Linked DNA regions of Homo sapiens: region 1 is linked to region 2. A link means that fine-mapping ties the variant in region 2 to the expression of a gene that starts in the linked region. Tissue or cell type: whole blood. Region 2 holds a variant in brackets; the other region holds the start of a gene. All regions are shown on one strand. Distances are between the middles of the regions.

What was found. PIP is the estimated chance that this variant, and not a neighbour inherited with it, causes the effect.
Region 1: it holds the start of ZNF274, and the variant in region 2 is fine-mapped to the expression of ZNF274 in whole blood (TOPMed, PIP above 0.99).

The regions. Positions count from the first base shown.
Region 1 is chr19:58,181,558-58,184,314 of GRCh38, reverse strand. ZNF274 (zinc finger protein 274) reads right to left here and starts at 1,254. Exons shown (of 8, transcript NM_133502.3): 1 at 873-1,254; 2 at 317-394. The coding sequence starts at 349. RefSeq lists enhancers at 402-591, 218-929, 842-1,261, 930-1,643.
Region 2 is chr19:58,204,052-58,206,808 of GRCh38, reverse strand. It overlaps ZNF274 (zinc finger protein 274), which reads right to left. Exons shown (of 8, transcript NM_133502.3): 5 at 1-89. Among named protein-coding and RNA genes, the nearest start is that of ZNF274, 22 kb to the right of the region's middle. The variant T/C (reference allele first, on the strand shown) is at 1,151.

The sequences.
Region 1 (2,757 bases), 22 kb after region 2:
CCATCTCAAAAAACAAAAAACAAACAAACAAAAGACCTGTCAATTACTCTTCCCAATATAAAGGATACAAGCAAGAGCCTTAACCTGGCCTTCAGAAGCCCCTACAATCTGGTCTCTATTCTAACTACACCCTTGGAAAACCAAGCAACCTGCGGTTCCACCATCACGCAGGATCTCTCATGCCCAACCAATCTCTACCCCCTCCCCGAGGTGCTCTGGAGGATGGGGGTATCTCAGGGAAGGTGGTATCTCACCACCATCCGCATCCTCCCAGGTGCAGTAGCGGACTCAAAAGCTGAAGGAAGCCTCTACTCACACAGGACCAGGCCGTCGGAAGCCTGGAGGCCATAGTTTCCTCCTTCTCAATGTGTCTCTGGTGGAAGTGGGCAGAGTCCTGAGGAAACCGAAGTTGGGAGGGGAGGGAGAGGCTTAAGGTGTCCGCTGGGGAGCTACCGCAGCCTCCGCCCAGGAACGGCTCCCTCAGCGGGAAATGACAAGTCCACCCAAACTGGAAAACGCCCAGAGTGAGTCATAGGACTCCCACAGGACTGGATAGGACCAGTTTTCCCCTCCCCGAGAGGACACCGAGCCTCCTCTGTCCCGCGCATCGGAGGGGATCGCCTCCCTGGCCCAGACCCCACGCTTCCGGAGGCGATCTGTTCTCTCCACCGCGGCGCCCCGAAAGCACTGTCTCCCCTCGGGGTTCCGGGTCACCGACCCCATCCCACAGAGCGGCGGGAGGACTGCAGGCACGGCCGGCTCAGGGTACCCGAGCTCGGCGGAAAATGCAGAGGCCGCGCTCGCCCCCAACTAACGGTTCTGGACCCGCCCAGCGCAGCCCCCGACGGACGCAGGTTTCGCGCGGCACTCACCCGGCGCGCGCCGCACAATGGCGCCCGTCGGCCGGCGGCGAAGTGCGTCAGCCCGCCGTCCCGAACTACAACTCCCAGACGCCCCCGCGGCGCGCCAGCTTGCCTCACCCAGCGGCGGCCATCTTGACTGGCCGGTTAGGGGCGGCAGGCGAAGCCGGGGACAGCAGGAGGAGGATACTCGTCGATGTCCCTCGGCGGTCCAGCTAGGCAAGGGGAGGCCTCTGGTGAGGGACGCTAGGCCGCAGGGCCCCACACTAATGTGGGCGGCGACCCGAGCTGGGAGAGAGTCGTGCCCTGCCACGAAGGCGACCACTCTTGGGGCAGAGCAGAAGCTGGAGAAAGGAAAGGCGCTGGACAGGGGTCAGGCCGGAAGTGCTGGAATGGGTGATGCTTGGTTGGGTGGCGGTGGGGGCGGGATTAATTATGACGTCCCTTGGGAAGAGGAAGGGCGGGTAGGGCCGGAAGTGCAGGGGGCGGGCCTAACTGGCCGTCCATCTGGGTGGAGGGGCGGGGACAGGGAGGGCGGGGAGAATGTAGGAGGCGGGGCTAGAGTCCACGCAACTTTTGGGGAAGGAGGGGGACTGGAAGACGGAAGTCGCGGGGGGAGTGGGGAGAGGTACTGAAGTTCCACCAGTTTCAAAGTCGAGAAAGAAGGGGAGGACTGGGAGAGCCGGAAGTGTGCAGGAGTTGGGACTGACGGCACTTATGTTTCTGGGAGATGGGTCCTGCCTGAAAGTGAGGGTGGACAGGGCCAAGTGTCCACTCAAGGTCAGGGAGGGGAGGGAAACTCGGAGGACCGGAAGTGTGATGGGAACGTGGCCAAACGTCCACCCTAGTTCTGGGGATTAGAGGAAGGGAGTAGGAAGGTCAGGGGTGTGCAAGGGGAAGGAGGGAAGACTAGGTGGACCACAAGTGTGATGGGAATGAGGCCAAACGTCTACCCTAGTTCTGGAGAGATGATCAGGGCTAACTGTACCCCAGGCATTGGGGAGGAGGAGCAGGATCCTCTGCCTAGTGTCCCCCTGTGGTCCAGTTTGCTCCTGGAAGCTGAGGTGCTCATGTCTAGGGAGAGGAAACCTAAGTCTGTAGCTGTCCAGGACCTGGTGTGTGCCACCCATCCTTGGGCCCAGGGTGCTCTCATCTTCCTTGGGAGCTCAGGACAAGGAGGTATTCTCTTGGCTTCCTCAAGGACCGACATCTGGTGTTTTCTTATCTTCCTTAGGTCCCAGGTCCCAGTATGGTCTTGTCTTCTTGGGACCTGAGGGCCCTAATGATCTCTCTCAGTGCTCAGGACCCTGTGTCCTCTTTCTTGATATTTCCTGGCAGGTCTCAGCAGCCCTCTGCCTCCCTCTGGTGGTCGTGTACACTGCCTGCTAAACTTGTTCCACGGGTTGTTGGTTTTTTTGGTCACTGTGGAGGATCCAACCTCAGGCTACACATTGTTTAATTGTTGCTGTTAGTGTGTTGATTTTGGCATAGGAGTATTTACTCAGAGACTGTGCAGATATCTTATAGTCTAATAATATTTCATTGGATTTTTCGTGTCTATTATAGATACAACACCATCCCCAATTAATAAGTAATTTGATATCTTCTTTTTCCATATTTCAACTTTAAAAAATTAACATTGTATAGTCCTAGCTAGTATGACAGAGCTATGTTAAGTAGTCATGTTTACTAATAGTCTTGTTTTGTTCTGGATTTGAATAGGATACGTCTAGCCCTTCATAATCACAAGGAAGCAAACCCCCTTGGAAATTCTTTTTTTTCTTTCTTTTTTTTTTTCTTGAGACAGGGTCTTGCTCTGTCACCCCGACTGGAATGCATTGGTGCGATCACAGCTTACTGCAGCCTCCACCTCCTGGGCCCAAGTGATCCGCCCACC
Region 2 (2,757 bases):
TGTGAGGACCTCAACAACCTCAATGTTCATTAGGGGACTCTCAGCAGGAAGAGGATCCAATTTAGGGTCCAGCTGGAGCTCAGGATACTCTGTAAGTCAAAAGCAGAGCAAGACAAATGAGAACAAGCACATGAAAAGATGCTCAACGCCATTATTCACTAGGGAAATGCAAGTCAAAACCACAGTGGAATATGCTTCAAACCCACTAGCATGGCTGTTACCAAAGACAGATGATAACAGGAGAGGATGTGGAAAAACTAGAATGCTCACACACTGTTGGTGGGAACATAAAATGCTGTACCACTCTGCAAAACAGGTTGGTAAATCCTCAGAAGTTAAACACATAGTTATCCATGACCCAGACATTCCCCCCAAGTATATATAGCTAAGAAAATTGAAAGCATATGTCCCCAAAAACTTCTATAAGAATGTTCACCAAAGTGTTATCCATAATAGCCAACAAGTACAAATAACCCATTGTCTATCAACTGAGGGATGTATAAGCAAATTGTGATCTAGTCATATAATGAAATATTGGCAATAAAAAGGAATGAAGTACTACTAATATATGCTACAACACAGGTGAAACTTGAAAACATCATGCTAAGTAAAAGAAGCCAGACACAAAAGGCCACATATTATATGAAATGTCCAGAATATAAAAATCCACAGACAGACAAGTAGATTAGTAATTGTTAGGAAATGGAGAAATTGAGAGGATTGGTGGGAGACTGCTAATGGGTATGCGGTTTCTTTCTTGGGTGAAGAAAATGTTCTGGAATTAGACAGTAGTGACAGCTGTACAACCCTGTGAATATATTTAAAAACACTGAACTGTACACTTTACAAGAGTGAACTTTACAATGTGTGAATTATATCTCCATAGAGCTGTTATAGGGAAAGAACAAAAGGCAATGAGGGTTGAGAAGGGATCTGTGACACTGTACATGTATGCATGGTCACAGGAAAAAGAACCTTCTCCAACCTCCACTGGGGACAAGAACGAGGATATATGGGAAAGGCAGGGGCTCTGGGTCCTGGCACAGAGTCCACAAGAGCACATTGCTAAACTGAACTCCAGGACTGTCCTGAAATGCTGAGGAGGCAGCACAAAACAAGAGGAAACAAGAAAGCTCTCTAAAACTCCCCT[T/C]CAAAATGCTAATTCTAAATAATTTGGCCAGCGGGGTGGCTCACACCTGTGATCCCTGCACTTTGGGAGGCTGAGGCAGGAGATTCGCTTCACGCCAGGAGCTTGAGACCAGCCTGGGCAACATAGTGAGACCCTGTCTCTAAAAAAGTTTAAATTAATCAGGTGTGATGGCATACACCTGTGGTCCTAGCTACTTGGAGGCAGGAGGGCTGCTTGGGCCCAATAATTTGATTTTACAGTTATCTATGATTGCACCACTGCACTCCAGCCTTGGCTACCAAGCCTGATATTGTCCCTAAAAAATAAGGCCTTAAAAACAAATATAAAAGTATAAATAACTACAGATTATGACTTACTTTTGATATTTGTAATATTTAGTGGCAACGACAAGAGCAAACCTGCAATTTCACCCTTGCTGTTGTGAATATAAATGGTCAGCACAATTCTACCAGGAAGTAGCTCAGCATGAACTAGCAAAGCCACAGCAAGGAACCACAGCTACTTTCACGGGATGAATCTACTGGAGCTATTCGGAGATGAAGATAGGTATAGAGGCACCAAAGGAATGAATAAAAACACAACAGCCAAACCAAATATAGTTAACACAGCACTGACCCACAACCTCTGGCAACAAGCACAGCTCAGGACTTAGATGACTGCCAATATACCCTTTTACTGCTCCCCGCCAAGCCAATAGGGTTCTCCACTCAGAACCCTTCCTTATGAATGCACGTCTTCTCACTCCCTACCTGCCTTTGACTCTCTCTACAGAACACAAGGGACCGTGGCTGGCTCCCTACTATACCCGGCTCTGAGTCAACCTCTGGGTGTCCTCATCTGGACGGCCTGGTCTTTATTTCCACAACATACCTGGAATATTCCTGCCCCGCGCGGTGTTAGGACAAAACTGGAAGAACGGGTAGTGTTGTAACACAGTTTAAGAAAATTGTTAAAAACTCCCTTGTAAGCAGTAAAACCTGCACTACTTTTAGCGTGATTATTACAGCGCAGAAAAACGGTCGCAGAGCAGAAAATTACTAGTGTGCAATAGCTGCAGCTACGTTAAAAATAAAAAAGCTCGGGCGGAAGCATCTTTCAGAGCCCGGAAGCCGCCTGCACAGACCCCTCCTCGGCCCTGGTCTCTCACGCACCCGCCGAGTCCGTCATCGCGCACTCAGGAATGCGAGGCCACAACCATAAGCTAACCCTTTCGCCCAGAATAGCACCGTCCACACAAGACCCAGTCTCTCAGCCGACGAAATGGGTCGACGCCTACAACGCCTCTAGGCCACGCCTCGAACCCTGCCCCCCCTGGACCCGGAAAAGCGCCCAGAACTACGACACCCGCGGGGCCTACAGCTCCCAGCAGCCTCCGAGACACGGGCTTCCGGTACCGTTCTCCCTAGTCCCCGCTGACAGGGACACGTCCTGGGCCTACATGGGGCAACGGGGCAGTGCGGCAGGAGTTTCCACGCCTGCCCCACCTGAAGGTATTTCTCCGGACCTCGCGGGCTGGGGTAGACGTTCCGCTGAGGCCACAGCAGACGGCTCCCAACCCCTCCCCTCTCCCGTTCCTCGAGTACAAACCCTGGTCTGTCTGGGCTTCC